2 separate regions of the Homo sapiens genome follow, and region 2 is linked to region 1. The links come from fine-mapping of genetic effects on gene expression. A gene starts in region 1. The other region holds a variant in brackets. All regions are shown on one strand. Distances are between the middles of the regions. Region 1 holds the start of RNASEH2B (ribonuclease H2 subunit B). Region 2 overlaps RNASEH2B-AS1 (RNASEH2B antisense RNA 1).

What was found. PIP is the estimated chance that this variant, and not a neighbour inherited with it, causes the effect. A credible set is the group of variants that fine-mapping cannot tell apart.
Region 2: its variant is the best candidate, but not a certain one, in a credible set for the expression of RNASEH2B in monocytes after LPS (Fairfax 2014, PIP 0.50).

What each region holds. Positions count from the first base shown.
Region 1 is chr13:50,904,487-50,917,303 of GRCh38, forward strand. RNASEH2B (ribonuclease H2 subunit B) reads left to right here and starts at 5,305. Exons shown (of 11, transcript NM_024570.4): 1 at 5,305-5,654. The coding sequence starts at 5,591. It overlaps RNASEH2B-AS1 (RNASEH2B antisense RNA 1), which reads right to left and starts at 6,226. Exons shown (of 3, transcript NR_046552.1): 1 at 5,997-6,226. RefSeq lists silencers at 5,120-5,549, 5,560-5,799, 6,010-6,059 and enhancers at 10,417-10,506, 12,705-12,817.
Region 2 is chr13:50,876,553-50,889,369 of GRCh38, forward strand. RNASEH2B-AS1 (RNASEH2B antisense RNA 1) reads right to left here. Exons shown (of 3, transcript NR_046552.1): 3 at 5,826-6,093. Among named protein-coding and RNA genes, the nearest start is that of RNASEH2B, 27 kb to the right of the region's middle. The variant T/TAA (reference allele first, on the strand shown) is at 6,584.

The sequences.
Region 1 (12,817 bases):
ATCGCAGGGTCTGCCTATGAGAGCCAGGCCAGCTTCTGGGTGTCAGGTGCTGCCCTTTTTCCTTCCTCAATAGCTTCAGTCATTCTTATGCTACGATGGGCAGATCTCACAAGTTTATGTGTGCCTTTTTTTCACACTGCCAAGTACAGTTCAGTTTTAGGTTGGGTTGGTTACGAGAGAACAGAAAGGGAATATTCTTCCCAGAAAGAATGATTCAGTGCTACTCATACTCACTGGTCCCCTTTCTACATAGTTGATGCTCTCGAGAGCGGACTTTTCTCCCAATCTGATGCTTCAGGATGATGGTGCTTTCTCTATTGTCACTCAATGAGCATTTGATGGCAGGAAAATTTGGTAGAAGAGAACAACTTTTTCTCCTGAGAAAAATGATGATAAACATGGATTTTAATTTTAATTTTGTTTTGAAAGAAGCAATCTTACAGATTTTTAATAATATAGAGGAGAAAATATTCTTCCACTACCTTTAATACAATGTCTGTCTGCTCTAATTACCACTAAGCATTGCTGAAGGTTATTTGGCACTGAATTCTTCTCCCGTGCCCCACCCAGTTTTTTTTTTCTTTTTTCTCTTTTTACTAAAAACCAAACATCTATTGTTTCCAGCATTTAGAAGAGTCTCAAATTTTCTACTCAAGAGGTGTTAAGTTGCTGCTCCCTTCTTATTCTTTGTACAGAACTAGTACAGACTAGTACTGCAAGTAATTCACAGACTGTTTTATGATATACTAGATGTAATCAATTTGTTTTGATTTATAAAATTGGGAATACCACAAGCCACGACAGCTTAGCTATCCGCATAAATATTTACTCAAAAAATATTTGCTGAGCACATGCTATGTTTCCATATTATTTTGTCCCAGGCATGGGGACACCAGGGAGGGAAGGAAGGTGAAGAGCCCAGTCTCTGGAGTCCTAAGGCCTGGGTTGGAATTCCTGCTCAGCCACTTGCTAGTCATGTCATCATAGGCAGGTACTTGATCTCTCTCGACTCTACATTCTTCCTCTGTAAAATGTGGGTGACTAAATAATACTTACCCTTAATGCTGTGGGAGGGCTGAAAGAGGTCATTCGAGTTAACTGCTTAGTGCAGTGCTCAGCATAGTTAATACTCAGTGAAGCCATTGTTATTTTTTGACAAGATAGTGGTGAATTACTAGATGCTATTCTTCCCTCAAGGAACTGACTGGTTCCTCTCACTGGTGAAATTGGAGGCATCTCACTTATTCTTGGGAAGAGTATTAGGAGGCAGGAAGAGAAGGCACTTAGTAAGACCTGATGGATGAGTGAGAGTTGTCCTGGCAGTGGTAAAGGGTAAGGGAGAAGGGAAGGAATGATGCTTGTGGAGAACAGGATGGTCTCAGCATTGGGGACACAATACCAAGTGCTAGATGTGACAGAGAAGAGAACCACAGGCAGTTCCTTGTGGCCACACTGTGGACTGGGTGGAGAGCGACATAGGTGGTGGGAACTGTAGCTGGGGAGTCCAGCCAGGACCGGATCTCAAGGGCCATGTGTTCAAAGCTTAGCACCTTAGACTTTACCTTGAAGACAACAGGGATCTGGAGTCAGCCTATCAGTAATGGTATCCTTTTCAAAAAGGTACTTACATAATTTTTTTTAATGATAAAGGAAATTATTTACAGAAAGGGCAGAGTTCATTGTTTTCTCATTCACAGAGTATAGCAACCGTTACCCGTACGAGCCTGGGCCTCTCATTTAATTTCTCCTGCCCCTCATTCCTTACCCATGCTTTCTCCCATTCCTCTCCATATTAAAGACACCCATATTTTATTTAAGTCCCAGAGTATATGTGCAGGATGTGCAGGTTTGTTCCATAGGTAAACGTGTGCCATGGCAGTTTGCTTCACCTATCACCCCATCACCTAAGCATTAAACTCAGTATGCATTAGCTCTTTTCTCTAATGATCTCCTCCCCGACCACCCTCCGCTTACAGGCCCCAGTGTGTGTTGTTCCCCTCCCTGTGTCCATGTGTTCTCATTGTTCAGCTCCCACTTATAAGTTAGAACATGCGGTGTTTGGTTTTCTGCGTCTGCATTCGTTTGCTGAGGATAATGACCTCCAGCTTCATCCATGTCTCTGCAAAGTACATGATCTCATTCCTTTTTATGGCTGCATGGTATTCTGTGGTGTATGTGTACATTTTCTTTATCCAGTCTATCATCGATGGGCATTTGGGTTGATTCCATGTCTTTGCTATTGTGAATAGTGCTGCAATGAACATACACATGCATGTATCTTTATAATAAAATGATTTATATTCCTTTAGGTATATACCCAGTAATGGGATCGCTGAGTCAAATGGTATTTCCAGCTCTAAATCTTTGAGGAATCACCACACTGTCTTCCACAATGGTTGAACTAATTTACATTCCCACCAACAGTGTAAAAGAGTTCCTATTTCTCCCCAGTCTTGCCAGTATCTGTTGTTTCTTTTTTTTTTTTTTTTTTTTTGAGACGGAGTTTTGCTCTCGTTGCCCAGGCTGGAGTGCAATAGCGCGATCTTGGCTCACTGCAACCTCTGCCTCCCAGGTTCAAGCAATTCTCCTGCCTCAGCCTCCCGAGTAGCTGGGATTACAGACACGCACCAACACGCCTGGCTAATATTTTTTGTATTTTTAGTAGAGATGGGGTTTCTCCATGTTGGTCAGGCTGGTCTTGAACTCCTGACCTCAGGTGATCCGCCCACCTCGGCCTCCCAAAGTGCTGGGATTACAGGCGTGATCCACCGTGCCCGGCCTCATCTGTTGTTTCTTGACTTTTTAATAACCACCATTTTGACTGCCATGAGATGGTATATCATTGTGGTTTTGATTTCCATTTCTCTAATGATCAGTGATGTTGAACTTTTTTCATATGTTTGTTGGCCACATGTATGTAAAGACACCCATTTCTTTATGTGCTTGACATGGCCTTAAATATGCATGTATCCTTGTAAATTACATCGTGTTGTTCTTTGTGCCTTTTAAATTTACCTACATGGTATTCTGCTAAAAATAATTTCCTGCATCTAAATTTTTTTCTTTAGATACAAAGCATCTGTTTGTATATGTACACCAATCACTGTGTCAAACTGCTGTATACATAGCCCATATACAATACACATGGTAGCATTATTTATAATAACAGTTTGAAATAACCTAAATACTGCACACTAGGGAATGGATAACTAACCCTAGTACACCAGCTGTGTTAAATATCATGCCTTCATTAACAATGATACTTCTCGATATGAAGGGGCACATGCTTATGACAATGTTAAGTGAGAAAAGCAGACAAAACAGTCTAAATTGTGACAACAACCACAAAAATATACATTAATACAGCCAAGGGCTAGAAAGGATCAGAGAAAAATGAAACAGGTATGTATGTCTGAGCAAGGGAATCATGGGTAACATTTCTCATGTACAGTAGCTCCCCCTATTCGAAGTTTCGCTTTCCAAGGTGTCAGTTACCCCCAGTCGAACTTGGTCCAAAAATATTACACGAAAAATTCCAGAAACAATTCGTAAGTTTTAAATTGTACAGTGTTCTGAGTGGTGTGAAGAAATCTTGCACCATCCAGCTTCGTCCTGCAAAGGACCTGAATTCTACCTTTGTCCAGCGGATCCACACTGCAGAAGGTCCCCTCCTTATGAGTCACTTAGTAGCTGCAAGAGTAGTGATGCTGGCATACTGTGAGAATTGTTCTATTTTATTATTATTGTTGTTCATCTCTTACTGGGCCTAATTTTCAAATTAAACTTTATCACAGATATACATGCAAAGGAAAAAACAGTATATTAGGGTTTGGTACTATTTGCGGTTTTAGGCCTTCACTGGGGGTTTTGGATCCCATCCTACAGGAATAATGGGGTGCTCCTGTAGCTGTTAGTAAGACGATGGTGTGCCTGGGGATTTGTGCTATACACCACAGCATCTTCTACAGTCGTTTTGGGGGAGAGGGAAGATCAGAGCAGTACCAATCTGCTGCTCCTTGCCCCAAAACTGGCAAGAGGCGCCTTTCCTCAGCCAGAAAGGCCTCTTCTCCACCAGCTGTGTCCTGCAATCAACTGCAGCTGTATTGGTCTCACCCCATGGGAAACAGGTTTGAAGTTAAAAACCTTTTCAGAGGGCCGAGATAAATTTAGTGCTGCTAAATTTAACTATCTTCAAGATTAAACATGAAAAGCAAAGTGCATGAGTTATGTATATTATTCTTTCAATTGTGCAAAAATAAGACATTAACTTGTTTTTGCATGGAAAAATTCTGCAAGAATAGAGAAGAAATGTTAACAGTTACCCCTGGGATCTGGGATAAAAGAGATACATCATGCTTTTCTTTAAAAAAAAAAAAAATAGGTTTTTGTGGATTTTTTTGTTTTTGTTTTTTTTGACAGAGTCCAGCTCTGTAGCCCAGGCCAGAGTGCAGTGGTGGGATCTCGGTTCACTGCAACCTCCATCTCCTGGGTTCAAGTGATTCTTGTGCCTCAGCCTCCGTAGTAGCTGGGATTACAGATGTGCACCACCACACCCAGCTAATTTTTGTATTTTCAGTAGAGACGGAGTTTCACCTTGTTGGTCAGGCTGGTCTCCAGCTCCTGACCTCAGGCGATCCGCCCGCCTCGGCCTCCCAAAGTGCTGGGATTACAGGCCTGAGCCACTGCGCCTGGCCCGTGCTTTTCTCTAAAGTATGAAAGGAATATGTACTTTCTTCTTAAAAACCATGTACCAAACAACACTTTTCAATTAAAATGTTATTTTTAAAAGTTTAAATCCCCAAATTTCATGGCTCTAACTTTTTAAACATCACTTTTTAAATAAATGTCTAAGTTTTTAACTCAGTATACAGCGTTCTCCAAAACAACAAATTCATATTCTGAGCCCAAAACTGTGCACCTCTTTTAGTGATGAGGACGGAGTCCAAATTGAGGACATCCCTTGTAGCTCACAATGCACACATATTCTCACATCAATAGCAACACAGAATGCAACTGATGACCAATATATATTCACAAATAATTGAGGACCATGGCTAAGAGTTGCATTCGGATTCCGATGTGACTGCTATTGTCCTTAACACGGACTAGCTCCAGGTGAGTCCCCCGGCCCCGGGGGTGTGGCGGGCGTCACCCGTTGTCCGGGCACACACCCCGCAGACCCAATCCTAGCCCGCTGGCTAGACCATGGAGGGCCGCTGGGTGCAGCCACAGAGCGCGGGGCCCCGGCGACCCCGCCCCGCTCCGCGTCACTCGGCGCCCTGCGGCGCGCGATGAGCACCTACCACTAGCGGAGCCGCGAGGGAGAGGCCGCGGCCCCTTCCCGTTGCCTGCGGCCACCGGCCGGCATTCAGAGCCCCTCGCCTGGCGCTAAATTTAAAAACGTAACACGAGCAGCAGGCTGGTCTCGGAAACGAAACGAAATTCGGTCCCTGGGCCTCCTCCCGGGCGCTGCCGGTCCCTCAGCGCGCCGCGCCACCCGGAACAGACCCTTCTCCCGCCATTTTCGGCGGGGCTGGGAGACTGAGGCCCGCGGCGCTGAGCCTGCGGCGCCCCGGAAGAGGCGGGCGGCATGGCCGCTGGCGTGGACTGCGGGGACGGGGTTGGCGCCCGGCAGCACGTGTTCCTGGTTTCAGGTAAACACGCGCGCCCGGGCGGCGGGGTCGGCCCAAGAACTGGCGGAGCGGCCCGCGACCCCGGGCGCGCCGCCCCCCACCCCGGTGGCTCCCACTACCCGGCCCGGCGCGGGATGGGATTCTCTCTGGGACAGCTGGCCCCGCATTTTGGTCACACGTCATAGCAAGCCGCGGTTTTCAAACCCGGAAGCGCCGAAAAGGACCGAGCGTGTTTCCCGGGCCCTGATCCCCGGTGGCTCGGGTGGGAGGGTGGAAGCCGACTCAGCCTGAGGGGAGCCACGCGGGTTCGCGGTCACCGGTGCGCTGCGGGCCCCGGAGGTTTCTGCCCTTGGTGTCCCCTACCTGGCAGCTGGCCCTGCTTCTGTGATCCTACTGGGTTGGAACCAGGGATCCAGTAGGCTCGAAGTGGCCTCAGACGGTGCGCAGTTTTAAGAAAGCAAAGGGACAGGCCTGCAGTGGCGAGGCAGGAGGGAAGCGGGATGGGAGTCGCGGTTAGGCCAAGGGTAGTTCAAAGCGATTCAGCAGGATGATGACCACAGGAGTGCTGGAGCCGGGCCTTTCAGCCCCCGTGTGGATGATGACCGGCCATCCAGGACATGCGAGGGCTTGGGACAGTGGACAGCCAGTGCCACACAAGGAAGGACCGATTAAATGACACAGTTAAAGGAATTTGGCCTAGGGAGTGCAAGCCAGAAAGGTTTGGTCTTTTTATATATGTAACATTGGAAAAAAGGAACATCTCCTGTTCCCTGTATTAAGTTTTGACTTTAGCTCAGCAAATGCAGTGTTTGTGGCAGTAAATATACTCTGATAACAATATTCTTTCCCAGGAATTTAGAGTTTTATGATGGTTATTGAAAATGTTTACATGACAGGCTGTCAATAATATTTTTTGCCTCTAAAAATAAAACATACATAAAGTGTACGGATTTTAAGTATGCAACTCACTGAACTTTTCATACGTATACACCACCCTAGTAACCATCCCCCAGTTCAAGATGTAGACTGTTTCCAATAACGCCTCATGCCTGTTCCTAGATAGCCCCAGGAACCTCTATGCTGACCTCTGTCACCAGAGATTAGTTTTGCCTGTTTGAATAAGAGTGTACCCTTTGTGTCTGGCTTCTTTCACTCTGAAAGATTCATCCTTGTTGTGAAATTCATTCATGTTGTAGCAGTTGTTTGGTTGGTTGGTTAGTTTTTTCATTGCTGCTTCTGTTTAATTGTATGAGTATCCATACTATGTATCTCTACTGTGGATGGACATTTGGGTTGTTTCCAGTTTGCAACTATTACAAGTTACACTTCTCAGAGCATTCCTTTAGGCGGCTTTTGGTAGACATGGGCACTCATATCTCTAGGGTGTATACCCTGGAGTGGAATGGCTGGTTCTAGTACTTGTGTGTAGAGCTGTAGTTGACAATGTTAAATGGTTTTCCAAAGTGGTTATACTGATTTATATTCCCACAAGCAGTGTATGAGAGTTCCCATTGCTGCACATCCTCGGTAAAAACGTTTGGGTGGTAAAACAGCTAATGCAAAATTCAGGGTTTTGACAGAATCTCGCAAAGGGCTACCCGTATACATGCTTTTCATTAGAAAAATCATCCTTTCTTCTCACTTCGTCACATCAAGACAATTAGATTTTCAGAGTAGGAACTCTAATCATTCTTTCAGAATCAAGTGCATTATTGTTATTTCAGATATACACAATAGCTGATGATAATTTGAGCTTCTTATTTTGTTGTTCTGTTTAATCAGTATTGACATCGTCATTTTATACGTGTGTTTGTGTCCTTGTATTAAACACAAAACCCTCAAAAGAATTAAATATTGATTGTATCCCTGAAAATTGTAGGTTTTAATATATCTACTGCTGGGTTGTGGGAAGAGTTTCAGTTGAGTTTCTGTTCAGAGCTGAGATCTACTGTGACCTTTTAAGGCATTGGGGGAGGCTGAGCAGCTGTTGGAACTGCTAGAAAGAGCTGTGTGGTCAGGGGGGCAGGAACTCTTAACAGTTAAAAACTTGAGCTACCAGCTCCTGCAATTCTTCCTTCTGGCCTTTAGCGCCACCTGCAGGCTCTGAGGGTACAACAAGGTTTGACAGCGACTGCAGTGCAACACTAGTTCTCAAACTTGAGGGCATCATTTACCTGGGGAGCTGGGCCTCAGTTCCCAGAGGTGCTGGTTCAGTAGGTCCTGGGCTGGGGCCAGAGAATGTGCATTGGTAACAAGTTCCCAAGAGATACTGATGCTGCTGGTCCGGAAACCACTGCCCCCACCCCAGGAACCACTGCAGTAAAGACTTTGGGAACTAGATTGGGATATAAGAATGACAAGCCTCATGTTTGGCCCTCTTTGTGGTGGGCCAGAATTTATATGGTCAAGGAAGTGCATGTAAGTGCAGAGTGTGAGGCTCATCTTCCCAGATGTAGTTGTCGTCTTTTCCAGAAGATGAGAAATCAGCCTGCTTAGTTACCCATTCGGGAGTTGGAAACGATATGCCCTTGGCTGAGGGAGCACCATACTCCAGTAAAGCTGGGCCCTTAATAAAGAAAACAAAGATTATTAAACATTTTTCAAAAGTATTTGGCGGAGGCGGCTTGTATTCGGTTTTAGAAAACTTGGGATCTGAAGAACTTACTTTGTGTACTGAAAAGTGAGCACATGAACCCACAGGCCAACAGAACTTTAAAGGGATTTATCCGTGAGACAAGGGTAAAGATGCCTAACCTTGCAATGATACTTTTTTCCAACATTTAATTCATGCTGTTCATCGAGTTGCCTGCCACAGCACTGTGTTATATCTTGAAGGATATATTTAAATGTTTGATTTAGGTATCTTTGCCTCTAGTTTTCAGTTTGTTTGGAGAAGCTGGCTATCTCAGATAAACAAATCTGGAACTTGGAAGAGATACTGTGAGATATGCAGACTTGGGACGTTGGTTTTCATAGGCTGGTGAAGACAGAACCATTTCCCATTTCAGCAAGGCAAGCATTTCTTTTAGTTTGGGATGGTCTTAAATGTTTCTGTAAAATGGCCTGGGAATACTAGCCTGTTTGCAGTTTTAATTTCTATAAGAGGCCATTACTTTACTTTTTGGAAAGTAGTATAAGTTTCCATCCCTCTTTTTCTGCCCTAAAAGTAAATGTTTGAGTCATATTTTTAATGTTTTTCTTAAGTCCATTTTTCTTGTTAATGCTACTAAGTTGGGATGTACCCAGGTGTGAGAGGTCACCTGATTCATTGCGTTTAGAAGACTGCATTTATTGCTGTTGGGGGCTGAACAATTAATTGGGTTCATCTCCAAGGAAATGTTAATTGGGAAACCCTAACATTGTGTATTGAAAAAAAAAAAAAGAAGAAAAATCATTTCAGGCCTGTTAAAACAAAACTCATTTGGGTTCACTTAGGCTGATTAAAATATTCCTTAATCAGCCCCCTGATTAAACAGTCCTGAGGTGAAACTGCACCTCAACTCGAATTTTCAGTTAGAGACAAGTTTTGCAATAAAGTTATCCCCCTTTATTTCATGAATATACATGTTAAAAAGTATTTTAGGAAAGATTGCACTTATTATTTATTTCTCCACAGAAAGCAGTTTCATGGAGGTAGAGGATGGGTTGCTTTTTGGGAGATAAGAATCCCTGTCTACCTTAGACATTTCAAATACAATAACAGCTTTTTATGTGAGGCATCGTGATAATCACAAATGATTATACCAGAGCTATCTTTCCAATTGGAATGCAAAAATAGATGTGGAAGGATTGTATAAATTCATGCATTAGAACTATGTTCTAATTAAAGGATTTAAAAAATAAATTTAAAAGGAAAAACTAATTTTCTTATTTAATGATGGAGAAAATTTATATTAATGTTATTTCTGATTACAGTCTTGAAGATTTTTTTTTTTTTTTTTTGGTCCACCAACTGGCATAATTGTAGCTTTTTATAAGTCCAAAGAAATGCCTCTTGTTTTGGGGGAGGAAAAAAAGTAAAGGTTTAAAGTGTATGGCAAAGGAAGAACTACTATAGATTTAACTGACTTTTCAGTGACACTAAAAAACACTCTTTTCCCTTCTTTACCTAATGGCTCATGGTTAATCTCAGAAGAAAAAGTTAAGCAGGATTTTTGTTCTTTGTCAAAACGGTATGTATGTATATGTTTGTGTTTAGAAATATACGTGAGGGCCGAAAGCTTCCTTATTTTCAGAAGAGATGAACTTCACTTGGCACATGATAGAGAACCTGGCCAATTCAAGTGCTGATTTTAGACAACCTCGGAATAATTAAGCTCAGCTTTTTGGAAGATGTGTCATTTACCGAATAGTCTACTGCAGGCAGTCAGCAGTGTAGGAGTCTCAGAGTTTTCCAGCATAGAGCGTGTTTAACATTTTCCACATGAATCTCAGTCTGGCTTTGTTTTTGCAAAATGTTTTTCGGTGGGACCCGACTGACCTTTCTCAGATGGCCACTGGATCTGCTCCCCTTGCTATCTATCTGAGCACGTTCTGAAGTGGATGGACTTCAGTTGCCAGTTGGTGTAATCAGGCTGTTTCCAGAGTCTGATCTTGTCCCTTTAGTAACTGTTCCAAAATACTTGGGACATTTATAAGTAAGAACTCATGACTCCCACATATTTATCCTCCAGGTCAGAAAAAAATTCATAAAAGGAAAGCAAGCAGTGTTCATGATTTTTTATTTGAGTAACAGAATAGGGACTGCATGGATTCTCCCACATCCTCTGAGACTGTGATTTTAAAAAACAAACAACTCAGTCAGTGTGCTCCAAAGCCTGGCTATAATAACACAGACTTAAAAGCTAGATTTATGCTATTTATTAGCTCTGTGTCATTGGGTGGTTTACTTCCTCACTATAAAGCCTCACTTTTGTCATCTCCACAGTGGGGAGAAGAGTACCAGTCTCATGGGGTTGTTATCTGTGGTTTGAGTTACTCATAAGCTTTCTTACACCTCAAGCTTTTAGCCCTGGGCCTGGGACAGAGTAGATATTTCAATAAATATTTACTGAACGAATAAAAGTCTCACATTCCATTTCTTCCTGCAATGTCTTTGCTTATTCTGCTTTTTCCTCCCCTTCTACTTCTATCCAAATTCTACCCTTTCCTCAAGGTTCCATTCAACTTTATTTTCCACAAAGCTAAGCCATTTGCTCCAGCTCAGCTTCTCCGTCTTGACTTTGTGTCTGCCTGGAATCCTGCCTGCTCTTCACTTTATCTACCTGGCAAATTCCTACTTATCCTTTAAACCCAGCTCAAGTATCACCTCTACCAGGAAGCCTTCCCATGGGTCTCTCCTCTTGTTACTGCCCAGGTTCGTGGTACCTCTTTGACCACCTACACATTTCATCATGATTATTCATTTAAGTGCCATTTTTATATAAATATGTATTGAACACCTAATACATGCCAGGAGCTAGAGAGAGTCCAAGTGTGTTTTCCCTGAGTGGCCATTTCGCTTCTCAGTGTGGGCACCTCAGCCTTCTGCTTCAGAGCACAACCTCCAAACAGTAGAGCATGTCACGTAGGATTTCCAGGCCTTTATTCAGAGCTACCTTTATGACTTCCTTGTCTAAGGATGACTGTTTGCTAAAGCAGAATGGGCCACCCCGTGGCAAGGGGATGTAAGGGATTTGGGGCTGCATGTTCTAGTCCCTGTTTCATTATCTGTCCCCGAAACAGCTAAGCTGGAGGCTGGCTTACTCCTCCGAGGGCCTAGGTCTCAACATTTGGTAAGGCTCTCCTGCATGATTGGCTACCTTTGCCTGATTGTTTTTAAAGATTTTTTGTTATTGTTGTTGCCTTTTAACCTTCTTTTGACCAGTTAACTCTACATTTACACGTTTTTCTCACAGTGGTTTTTTTTTTTGATAACTTTAAATAATTAGAATAATAATATTTACCCAGTATAGAAATTCTAGTAATATGGGGAAAAAAATAAAGAATAAAATAATTTGTCCATCATCCTCACCCAAAATAAAAATTTTGGAGATATTTCTTTCCAGTTTTTTCATGTTGTTTACATTACAAAATGAATTCCAATCTTCTTAAATTTTTTTTTCTTATTTTTCTATTTTTGCCTTTATTTCATTGTTTACCCTTACTACTTATTTAATGTAACACTAAAACACTCAGGGAGATTGGGGTTACATAAAAGTTTATATGGTGCTGTTCTACATAAAATTGGAGAAAGTTCAGTTGATTTAATAGAGGTAGGGGCTGTTTTTTTCCTCTTAATTTTGATAAGGACAGAAACTCACACAGTGATATGAAACAAGTTGACAAAGAGAATTTGTATTTTAGGCTTTGAACATTGAAGAGGTGTAATACTTATTGCTTCAGACAGTAGACAGTACATATTTGGAATGGGTTATCTTTGAAAGTGGATAAAGATTGAAAATACAAATAGGTGCAAAAGAGGTAAAGATACATTTACAGAGCTGTATTGGACCCAATGGCAAACTAGGATGTTTCAAAAGCCATTCAAAGCAGGTTACATTTTTGAGGACAACCATAGCCTCCTGCAAACATCCCTTGGTGTGCTTTCCTGAAACCGGATACTGGTTTGAATAGCCTGTGAGTCTGCCTTAGTATGGAAATTGCCATTTTTTAATGTGGGGTCAGTGCACCTGGGTTGTGTGTTACAAAATCAAACATGAACTTCTTTGGGAGTTCCTTAGCAGGTTCACATCCTCCCAGGAAGGAGCAGGGGTGGTGGAGAGCATAGGACATCTGGCCCTAGGGTGTTGCAGCAGCAGGAGTCCAGGGTTTCTGCCTCTCTGAGTGTTAACTTCCTCTTCTCAAACTAACTTCCTGCATTTAGTGAAAAACTGGTTTCACGTGATTCCCAAGCTGCAGATCCCCCCAGTGTCTGCTGGGAGGGGTCTCTCCTCTTAGTTCCAGTTTGAAACCTTTCAAAACAGCCTTCTGACTGGTCCTGCTGTGGTCACATGCAGTCCCACCCTCCACCACCTATTGTAGCCAGGGAGGGGCAGGCTGTAAGCACAAGGTGGGAGAGGAGGAGGACAAAGTGGGCACTTGAGGCTAAAGAGTGCTTTTCTGGAAGAAGGAAAGGGTACAGGATAGACAGCAGAGGAACTAGCTACCACGTCGTTTCACCAGTGGGACTCTGAGCTCTGGCC
Region 2 (12,817 bases), 28 kb before region 1:
CGGCCTAGATTTACATTTTACATTTATATATGAGATTCATTTTTAGTTAATTGTTGCATATGAAGGAAGGTATAGATCAAAGTTGGGGTTTTTTTGTATACAGATATGTAAATGTTCCAGCACCATTGTTGCAAAACTATCCTTTCTCTACTGAATTGCCTTGGCACTGTCAAAAATTTGTTGTCCATATATGTGAAAGTCTATTACTGGACTGTCTTCTGGACCTAATGTCTGTGTCATTATCTCTTTGTGTATCTTCGTGCCAATATCAAACTGTCTTGATTATTGAAGCCTTGCACTTTGAAATCAGGTCGTCTTAGCCCTCCAACTTTGTTCTTCTTTTTCAAAATGAATTTGCCTATTTTAGGTGCTTTTCATTCCTGTGAACTTTAGAGTTAGCTTGTCATTTCCTACAAAAACAAACAAACAAAAAAAGCCTGTTGGGATTTTGATTTGGACTGCGATGAATCTATCAATTTGGAGACAACCGATGTCTTAATAATATTAAATCTTTCACCCATGAACATGGTATTAGTAACTATTTATCTATCATCTATCTATAAACATTGTTAAAACAATCAAACACTGCTGATACATATACACGTTTTGTTGTATGCTGACCATTTCATGTAGAAACAACGATAGTGACTGAAGCAAATAATACTGATGCCTATAAAATGGCAAAGCCCTGGTTCTGTCAGTCCCCTGTGATTGGAGACAGGGCCCATCTGATCTCTGTGTAGTTGGGCTGGGTCTGAGCTTTGTCACAGCTTATTGTGATTCAGTTCATGGCTGGTTTTAATATCTGAAAAGTAGAATCAGTACTTTTCTCTCAGTGTATCTTGGAATCCTAGAGACAGTAAGACTCTGGAAAGTTCTCCAAGCTTCACACAGCCCAGCCCCCAACTTTCCAAACTGTGGGAGTTCTCTTTATGCCTTACAGCCCAGCCACCAACTTCTTGGGTTGCTGGGGCCTTTTCTTTGCCTAAACTCTGCCTCCACATCTCAGAGCCTTAAGATAGCTCTTCCTCCAGCATTCAATAGGTGGCTACAATGTACTCAGTAGAGACCTTGTGTAGGGAGGGTGGAGGTAGGGGTGAGGTGGGTGGGTAGGGTTGAGGGGATTGGAGAGTTGAAAGGGTTTTCGGGAGCATCTATTTCTCTCAGTTCTCCTGCTTTGCCTCTGGCTACTGCAGGCTGCTGCCTTGCATTTGGTGAAAGCCTCGTGCTTTCTAGGAGGGGATTTCTTTCAGCTTTCCTGCCTTACCCCCAGTGTGTAATGGGGACTGCCTTGCAATGGATGAACCTCACATGCCTTGGAGAATCCCTCTTGCTTCTCCTGCCTTGCTTCCTGTGCTCAGTGGGCTACTTTCTTGTACTTTGGGAAGACCTGGTGTACCTGGGGAGGGTATTTCTCAGTTCTCCTACCCTGGCACCAGCTTTCAGTGTACGACTCCCATCCACTCAATGGAGGCTGGGTGGGTACAGACTAGTTCTATTCCTGGGGTACCTTGTGATTCTACTCTGTTATGCCAACCCATATACAATCATCCAAAATTTGTTTAAAGATAGGCTGGTTTCTCCCTTCCTCTTCTGTGCTCCTTCCAACATGTCCCTAGGAACAAAAGCAGCTGTGGGACTCTTCTCTCTAGGAAGAGCTTGATCCTTTTGGAAATGTAGTTAATTTGAGGGATTTTTTTCTTTTTTTTTTTTTTTTTTTTGGCTCCTGGGTTCTCTGATGAGTGTGAAACATGCAAATGAAAGCAACAACAAATAAAACTGTCATTTGTAGTGCTTCTGGTCTGTTCTCATGGTTAGAGTAAGAGTGATAGACTCCTGCAAATTTCTGCATCTTATAAAAGAGTGGAGGCTTGTCCCCTCATTGGGTTTTGTACATTGTCTTTGGGCTGTAGGTTGTACCTGTCACTAAGGTACCTTAAATAAACATACACACACATTTCGTTTTTTAAAAATGGCTAAGTCAAGCCTCTAAGTTCAACATCCAAACTCCATGTGAAGGAGTTTCAACTTTCTTTGGTTTTCAAAAATCCCCTCTAAGATCTTCCATATTTGTGATGGAATTTACATAAAACATTTATTCAAAAAAAAGTTATTGAATACCTAGTATGCACTAAGGGCTGTTTCAGGACCTGGAGATGCAAGATAACAGTGCCATGGAGCTAACGTTCTAGTGGACTTCTGGAAAAACTAAGGGATCGTGACTTAGCTGTGACTGCAAGTCACATATGCAAGTTCACCACAGTTGACCTTTTGAAACAGTCATTTCAGGAGTTAAATTATAAGGAAAATTCATTCCAGACCTCTGCTGAAATAAACAATGCTTCTAAATTCTATAGAGATGTGTAGCCAGTGGGGAGCTGTCTGACTACATCAGTTTACAGACTTCTTTCAGCAAAATCAGAGATCCACATGGAAAACCAAGTATTCAGGAGCCTCTATGTATATTACAGCATGCCCTGGGGCCTCAAGCAGTCTCCTTTATGTGTAATTTTTTCATCTGTGACAGATTTAATGTGGATAATAATGCTTACTTAATAAGCAATCCAGTATAATTTAACAGAAGTTACTAATGTAAGTTCAAATGAGTTTTCATTTACAATTTTAAGAACACCATGTGTATGACAGGAAAACAGTGGGTGAAGAGCTGATCTAAAAAGCAAAAATGGTAACATCCTGAATTATGCCATAGAATCCATTTATTTTGATTAACCAGCTGAGACTATGAAAGGTGGAAAATGCATTTCATGGTAGATATACTTTAGGTATAATACTAAGAACTTAAACCAAAGGATTGTACCATTCACCTGACATATCATAAGACATGAAATCATGTTTACTTACATACTTTTAGTTTATCCATTAAAAAAAGAGTCAGCAAACTTTCTCTAAAGGTCCAGGTTGTAAATAGTTTAGGCTTTGCAGACTATAGTTTCTGTTGCAACTACTCTATTGTAGCATGAAAGCAGTCAGAGACAATAAGTAAATAAATGGGCAAGGCTGTGTTCCAATAAAACTTTATTTACAAAATCAGGCAGTAAACCAGATTTGGCCTGTGCACTGTAGTTTATCAACCCCTAGACCATCCTGGCTAACATGGTGAAACCCCATCTCTACTAAAAATACAAAAATTAGCCAGGTGTGGTGGTGGGCACCCATAGTCCCAGCTACTCGGGAGGCTGAGGCAGAAGAATCACTTGAACCCGGGAGGCAGAGGTTGCAGTGAGCCGAGATCACACCACTGCACTCCAGCCTGGCGACAGAGTGAGACTCTGTCTCAAAAAGTAACTAACTAACTAACTAAATAATAATAATAAAAATAAAATGTCATATTGGCATTGTAATTACACTCTCCAGAAGAAATTACAGGTTATGTACAAAATGTATTGCTCCATGACTGGCTACAGGCAGAATGGGTGGCTGTCTGTGTGTTATGACTCTATTAAAATATTACTGTATTATGGAAGTATTTCTAGACCTGTATGATGGAATTTTTTAGTGTGTATGATATCAATACATAATAACCCTGTGCCTGAGGGTGATTAGGGAGATAGATTCTCAATAGACTCTGATGTAGTAGGTTTCTTCTGAATGGGGAAGAATTGATTAGATTAAGATCACTTTAAAGCTGTAGTCAAGCTTGTCCAACCCATGGCCTGCAGGCTGCATGCAGCCCAGGATGGCTTTGGATGTGGCCCAACACAAATTCATAAACTTTCTTAAAACATGAGATTTTTTTGCGATTTTTTTTTTTTAGCTCATCAGCTATCAGTAGTGTTAGTGTATTTTATATGTGGTGCAAGAAAATTATTCTTCTTCCAGTGTAGCCCAGGGAAGCTGAAAGATTGGACACCCCTGATGTAGATGCTTTCAACACCATTCATTCATTCAACCAGCACAGATGTTGTTCACATCATGTTGGGAACTGGGGGTATAAAGAGAAATAGAAAATAGTGTATTTCCCCAGTGGCTCACAGTCTAGTGACAGAAAATGATGAAAACAAATAATTAGAGAAATGTAATAAATTCCGTAGTAAAAGCATGAACAAGGCACGCTGGTGTATTGCAAGGGAAGCTCTTAACTTTGCCTGCAGATATTAAAGAAGACTCTGTGGAGAAGATGACATTGGATTGGATTTTAAAGACTAAATGTTTGCCAGGCAAACAAATGGGGAAGATAATGCCAGGAGAACAGGCAATTTTATATTAGTTTCTTCACTTTCTTCTCACTCCTTGTTATCTGGCTTCTCCGTCTCCACAACTTTACTAACTCTTTTCTCCTGAAAGACTCCAATCCATAAGTGTTTCTAGGCTACGTTTTCTCCTTGACTATTCTGCTTCATTTCACGTCACTAACCACTATCTCTTCCTCTTTCCTTCTTTTGATTTCTTTTTAACAGATTCATGCTTTTGAATGATCATTCAGCTTGCAGAGTGGAGGATAGATGGTAAAAGGGAGACTGGCCAGGATTTTAATGTGTTGATCAAAGTAAGAAATGATGAGGGCCTGACCCAAAACTTGGAGTGCTAATTGAGAGGCAGCACAGATTCTGGAGTTATTAGACAAACTGGCTCCAGTGAATAGGGCCCATGAAATGAGAAGCTGGGGACAGGGGTGTGGGAGGGAAGGGTAAGGGTCATGTCTGACCCCACCAGATGTGCTGTGGGCTTGGTGTCTTGGAGCAGGGGTCCGCAACTCTTAGGCTATTGACTAGTACCGCTGGTTCACAGCCTGTTAGGAACCAGACTGCACAGCAGGAGGTGAGTGGCAGGTGAGTGAACATTACCACCTGAGTTCTGCCTCCTGTCAGATCAAGGGCAGCATTAAATTCTCAGAGGAGCATGAACCCTATTGTGAACTGCTCATGTGAGGGGTCTAGGTTGTGCTCTCATCTAATGCCTGATGATCTAATCTGACATGGAACAGTTTCATCCCAAAACCGCCACCCCCCACCCAATCCATGAAAAAATTGTCTTCCACGAAACAGGTCCCTGGTGCCAAAAAGGCTGGGGACTGCCTTGACAAAGTAATTGACTCTCTTCTTAGAGATGCTTTCACTCACTAACATAAAACAGATTCAAGGATATTTTTCTCACATTTTAAAAGTATTATTTTTAAAGTTAAAATACATATAACAAAAAAAGAACCGCCTTAACCATTTTTAAGTGTACAGTTCAGTGACATTAAGTACATTTACATTGTTGTGCACCAATCACAACCATCCATTTCCAGAACTTTTTCATCTTGCAAAACTGTAACTCTGTACCTACTAAACAATAACTCTCATTTTCCCCTACCCCTGCTCCTGGCAACCACCATTCTACCTTCTGTCTCGATGATTTCATTACTGTAATTACCTCATATAAGTGGATCCTATAGTATTTGCCCTTTTGTGACTGGTCTAGTTCACTTAGCATAATGTCCTTAAGGCTCACCCATGTTGTAGCATGTGTCATAATTTCCTTTTTAAGGCTGAATAATATTCCATTGTATAAACATACTACCTTTCGTTTATTCATTCATCTATTGATGGATACTTGGGTTGCTTCCACCATTTGGTTATTAATTTTACTCACTTTTTAAAGCTTAAAATAACATTTGTAAAATGCTTATACTATTTCAAATGAAAATATGTGCAACTTCTTAAATTTTTTGAAGTATGAATTATTATTTTTTCATTAATTATGTTAACAGTATAGAAAAAGAGAAAAGTGCCAAAAGTTGATATCAACCAGCACAAATTTTTCAAAATCTTGTTACTCTTCTTATTAACATTCTAATTATTCTTTTTGTCATTTTTTCTGCCTTTCACTTTCTTATTATGACCCAGTTAAGAGATTGGCTGTTACATATAATAGTCAAAATTTGTTATGATTATGATTTTATATACTCAGTCCTTGCTTTGTTTTACTTGAATCTTTGCCAAATTCCATGCTCACCATTACTTCTTGCATCCCAGTTCTTTCACTTTGTAATTTTCTTCTTCCATAAGTACATCCTTTAGTAGTTCTTTCAGTGAGGATCTAGTCAATTTCCCAGACTTTATTTCTCTGAAGGTCTATTTTGCCTTTACTCTTGAACAAAAAAAAAAAAAAGATCATAGCTAGACATATAGTGAAACTTCAGAACACCAAAGACAAGTCTAGAAACTTAACAACTTTAATACATACACATGTGGTATATGACAGAAGCAGCATTAGAAATTAGTAGTCTTAGCCAAGTGTGGTGGCTCACACCTGTAATTTCGGCACTTTGGGAGGCCAAGGCAGGCAGATTACTTGAGGCCAGGAGTTCAAGACCAGCCTGGCCAATATAGGGAAATCTTGTCTCTACTAAAAATTACAAAAATTAGTTGAGTGTGGTGGTGCATGCCTAGAATCCCAGCTACTTGAGAGGCTGAGGCAGGAGAATTGCTAGAACCCAGGAGGCGGAGTTTGCAGTTAGCCCAGATTGCGCCACTGAACACCAGCCTGGATGACAAAGCGAGACTCTGTCTCAAAAAAAAAAAAAGAAATTAGTAGTCTTGGATAAATGGGCTATTCAGATAGATAAAAGACCTAAATG[T/TAA]AAAAAAAAAAAAAAAAAACCAATATTGTAAAAGTTCGGAAGAAAGAAAATAATATCTTTATGACATTGGAGTGGGGAAGTACTTATTACATAAGATTTTAAAACATAAACCACAAAAAGAAAAGGAACTTGAGTATCTTAAAATTTAAAGCATACCTCTGCACAATAAATGAAATCATATAGCAAAAAAGCAAGATACAAACTAGTATATTTGCATATTACATAGCACATACAATTATTAGTATATAAACAATTCCAACAAATTAATGAGAAAATGTAATAACCTAATTTTTTAAATGAGCAAATAATATGAGTAGGCAATTTATGGGAGAAACTTGAATAACCAATAAACGTGAAAAATTGGTTAATCTCATTAGCTGTCAGATAAAACTAAAACAACATTAAGTTGACACTTTACACTCATTGGCTTGGCAAAGAAAACATTTCAATCTGACAACACAGAATATTGGTAAGAATGTGGGAGAAGAAGAGCTCTTAAAAATCATTAGTAAAGAGTAAATTTCTATAATCACTTTGACAAACAATTTAGCATCACTTAATAAAGATGATAACACACATAACATACAATCTAGGTTGTTCCACTTCTAGTTACAGATCCTGGAGAATGTCTCCAGTATGTGTAAAATGGAAATAGACACAGGCATTCATTGTACCACTTTTGTAAGTATATAAAAGGACTAACAACCTAACTTGATGAGTGACTAGATAAATAAAGTGTGGCTTACCATAGAATAGAATACCATGTAGCAGTTAGAATAAGGGTACTGGATACAAGTCAACATGGAAAAATCTTTAGAAAATGATCTGTGTTAAAAGCAAGTTGCAGAATGCCACTGCTCAGATTCCCTAGGAAACAGACCCTGTGACCATGAGAAGCATACAGAAAGTTTATTAGGGAGTGTCTTCAGGATTAACACCTGCGAGGAGCTGGGCACAGTGGCTCATGACTGTAATCCCAGCACCTTAGGAGGCTGAGGTGGGTGAATAGCTTGAGCCCAGGAGTTTGAAACAAGCCTGGCAATACTGTGCAACTACATCTCTACAAAAAATTTAAAACTAGCCATTGCATGGTGCCAAACGCTTGTGGTCCCAGCTACTTGGGAAGTTGAGGTGGGAGGATTGCTTGAGCCTGAGAGGTGGAGGTTGCAGTAAGTTGAGATTGCACCAGTACACTCCAGCCTAGGTGACAGAGAAAGACCTTGTCTCAACAACAACAACAAAACAAAACAACAAGAACAATGACAAAACAAAACCCTGCAAGGAGTGAGGAAAGCGAGACTGGCAGAGGGAGAAGTTAAACCACAGTGTAGTTGCAGCAGAGGCTTCAGTCAAGCCTGTGGGGAGCTCTGGAGCTGGGATCTCCCTTTAGAGTAGCCCTGAGTTGAGGCAAGAAGGCCAGATCTTCCTATTGAAGAAGGAATAGGAATTGTTTATTTACTAATAACTGTATGTGCTATGCAAATATACTGGTTTGTATCTTGCTTTTTCACTATATAATTTCATTTATTGTGCAGAGGTATTTTTTAAATTTTAAGATATTCAAGTTCATTTTCGTTTTGTGATTTATATTTTAAAATCTTATTTAATAAATACTTCCCTACTCCAATGTCATAAATGCCCTATCCCCTCTCCCAGTCAATGGTCAGTGGATGCTTGTAGGGAGGGTGTGTGACTTTGGGCAAGGCTTATGGCCAAAGGGAATTCTTGGTGAGAGATTCAACTGGAAGCTATTCTAAGCTTACATCTCCAAATGAGGGAGCAAGTGCCTTGTCCTGAAGATCTGGTGGGCCATGCCACAGTGTCTACCACCCAGAATGATCTGATTAGTATTAATATAATATTTGTGTCATTTTACAAACACACAAAAAGCAATACGCTAGTTATGTATATATAAATACATTAAAAATTGCAAACACTTGTATGGGAATTATACATCAATTTCACCATCATGGGTACTAATGAGGGAAAATGGAGGTAGAGACGGAGGTAGGGATGAGGTATCTGAGGCTTCAGCCATTCCTTTAATATTTATTCCAAGAAAGATGGGAGGAGAAGAGAGAGTTAAAACAAACATGACAAAATGTAAAAATCAGTTCAATATTATGATACGGTGAAGATAGGAATATGTGATTATTTTTGTACTTTTCTATGTCTGAATACTTCATTATTTAACCCTAAAAGAAAATATTAGAGAATATGTCTCAGAGAAATAAGAACTTGAGAGTCATTCTGTTAGGCCTTAAGTGGTCATTGGGAGAGCAGAGATTGACATTCTGTGAATAGGGCTCAGGGTCTTAACTGTAAAATAAATTAGATTATTTTAAGACTACCTCCAATTTGGAAGAAAGACTTTCAATTTTATGAATGTTTTGATAAAATCACAGCTGTTGGTCAATGAAAGCTTTAATTCTGTGAAGAGTGAAATAGTCCTCCAATTGGATCAGCTCTTTAGTTTTTACAATCAAGTGTCAACTTTGTTCTTAGCTGTACCTAAGGCATATAGACCACTTTCAGCAAGCATTCACTAGATTGACCAGCTATTATAAACTAGGCACTGTTCTAGGCACTCGAGATAAGACAGAAAACAAAACAGATTTTTAAAAAGTTCTACTTTCCCTGTTAAAAGAATGAAAAGACAAGTCACAGAGTGGAAGACAATATTTACAAAACACATCTGATAAAGGACTTATATCAAAAATATGAAGAGAACTCTTAAAACAGCATTAAGAAAGCAAACGATGCAACTTAAAAATGGGCAAAAGATCAAAACAGAAACTTCACTAAAGGTGGTGAGGATGTGGAGCAGCAGGAACTCTTATTCATTGCTGGTAGAAGTGCAAAATGGTACAGCCACTTTGGAAAACAGTCTAGCAGTTTCTTACAAGCTAAGCGTAGTCTTACCATACAATCCAGCAATTACACGCTTTGGTGTCTATCCAAATGAGTTGAAAATGTGTGTCCACAAAAAACCCTGCACACAAATGTTTATAGCAGCTTTATTCATCATTACCAAAACTTAGAGGCAACCAAGATGGCTTCAGTAGGTGAATGAATAACTAAATTGTGATATATCCAGACAATACAATATGATATGGTAATGAAAAGAAATTAGCTGTCAAGCCACAAAAAGATGTGGAGGAAATTTAAAGGCATATTGCTAAGTGAAAGAAGCCTGTCTGAAAAGACAACGTGCTGTATGATTCCAACTGTAAGACATTCTAGAAAAGGCAAAACTATAGAGACAGTGAAAAGATCAGAAGTTGCCAGTGGTTCAGGGATGGAGGGAAGAGGGATGAATAGGTGGAGCACAGGGGATTTTTTAGGATCACCTATGTGATCCTGTAATATGGATACATGACATTATACATTTGCCAAAACCCATAAGACTGTACGAAACAAAGAGTAAACTTACGTTAATAATAATGCATAAAGATCAGTTCATCAGTTGTAGCAAATGTACCACACTAATGCAAGATATTAATAACAAGGGAAATTTAGGGGGGTTAGGGTGAGATGGGAAAGGGCATTAAGGAAACTCTATGTACTTTCTACTCAATTTTTCTCTAAAATTAAAACTGATCTAAAAAATAAAGTCTACTAATTAAAAAAAAAGAATCCTTGTCTTTGTGGAGCATACACAATGGTTGGGGGAAATAAGTAATGTGTTTATAGAAGATGGAAATACTAATACATTCCATGGAGGAAGGAAAAAAGCAGAGAAAGCCAATAGAGAGTGAGGAGTTGCCATTTTAATTGGATGACATGGAAGGCTTCCATGAGAAAGGACATTTAAGAATCAATAAAAAACTCAAAATGCTTCCACTGGATGGGCACGCCAGACCTCATTTTCAATGAAGCATCTGTCAGAGGCTCAGGAAAACACTAGTGAAAGGGTAGATTAGATGACAACACTTAACCCTTGATCAGTGTTAACAGTACTAAAAATGGGACCACGAGACCTCATGTGCCGCCTGATGGAATGCAATCGGAAACACGCGATAGTACCTATGGAGTATTTGCCAAAATAAATGCATCTGAATCTAAGCAAGCTTCACACTCAGGCAGCAAGCTCATGAAAAATACAAAGGAACAAGTTATTAGATTAATGGGTTGAATGAGAATGCGATCAGCAAAATCTGGCATGCCGGAAGTTCTACAGGACAAATGAACCAATGTCTTCAACAAACAAAAAAACGGCTAAAAATGGGGAAGTGGGAACTTTCATAGATTAGAAAATACCTAAGAGACATTTCAACCAAATGCAATTTGTGGACTTTACTCTGTGATTTCAACAGGACTGTAAAATATATTTGAGAAAATTGGGGACATTTGAACACGGACTGCGTAATAGGTGAAATAATAGAATTAATGTTAATTTTGTCAGGTATGATAATGGAATGGTGGGTTTGTGGTTTTTAAAAATGCTCATCTGTTCGATTTATATACTACTGACTTAATTATGGATAAAACAATATGACATCAAAAAAGGTGAATAATAGATAAAGCAAGATGGACAACTGGGGCTGGACCTGTGCTTGGTGGGTCCTTGGTGTACCTGGTGGGTCCTGAGCACCACCCCGGTGGTTCTAGGTGTGCCCTGTCAAATTCCTGAAAACTCCTCTTATAAATGTGCAAATATTTATAATCAGTTTTTTTTTTTTAATAAAAAGAGTCTAACATTCTATGGCGACATTATGTGTAAAAAAATTCCTTTGGATCAGTTATGTGAAATATTTTTTAAAAACCAAGAAAAATGTTAAAAATTGTTGAATTTGAATATTGTGTCAATGGGGTTCATTATACTGTCTTTCTACTTTTGGATGTTTGAGAATTTCCTTAATAGAACAATTTTGAAAGTCTAGGAATACTAAGAGATATTAGAAAATTAAAAGCAACAGTCTAAGACTGATTTTCAAGGTGTTTTGTTTTGGGTTAAAGACAATTTCTTTTAAAAGGCAATTATGGACAAGTCAAATATGCACAACAGATACATTTGGAACTACCTGACTGTGATGGAGTCACTCTTCTCTCCTCTGCCCCCAGAGATACAGCACATACAGTTTGAAGTTAGTTCAATTAAGGTAACAATTTTCATTGTCTACTAAGTCAACGACTCTCGGTCTTTTGGAATATGCTGGATGCTTTCTAGTGTTTACTAGAATACTTGAGTAGTAAATACTTTCTAGTATTTACTAGAACTTGGAGTAGCACAATTCAAAGGATTCAGTGAATTAAGAATATACCAATCAACAATAATTGCACTACAGCTGACTAACAATATCTCCTGGTATCCATAAAAGACATTGCCAATGAATACACTATTTGGTTTCCCTATCACAGTGTCACAGTGTCAAACAGTTTGTACTCAAACAACTTGAGTACAATTCTTTACTGTTCTGACTGCCTGTCTCTTATGTTTATGGCAAAGTCCCAGTGTGTTCCAGTCATTTCTTACTTTCCCTGTTACTTGACATTACCTCTTTCTCAGTGACTCTCTTCAACACAGCGTCACATAACATGATCATTCCAGTCATCTACACTGAACAAAAAGTTCAAAATGGGAGCAAACATAACCTTTACACATTGATAAAAATATGGTATCATTAATAGTCCATTAATTGGATGTTATGCTAATAGGTTTGATCATCTGAAAGCTATATACCTGGATTTATCTCCCCAGATACACCTTATTTATCATCCTAAATACACCATGAAGACCTAAAAGAAATATGAGGTAATATGCTCTAAATATAATTTTTGATATAAGATATGACAGAATAAAAATTGTTTGCATCTTTTTTGAAAATCACTATGGAAGATGTTGTCCACTGAATGACTCCTGTAAACCTATTTAAGTATCATAGTAGAGTTTACACATAGGAAAATGATTGCTTCCTTTTGTTTATAAATGATCTGTTTCTCTATGTTACCTTGACTTTCACATACGTGAGAGCTAAACTGAAGCTACCATAATTAATTTAGGTTCTCTTACACAACGAACCCTGCTCATTTCCATCCCATCCAGCTTTATTTAATGATTCTATTGATGTATCTGTTGTGGACATATTTTATTTTGTCCCCCCAGCCCAAACACTCCCTCTTCTGATAGCAGCAGCACCTTCTTTTAGATAAACCCTTCTCCCCACCTGTCCCAACTCCAACCTTGTCGTTTTAGTAATGCAGTCAACCTCTGCCTTCTGCCACTCTCAGACC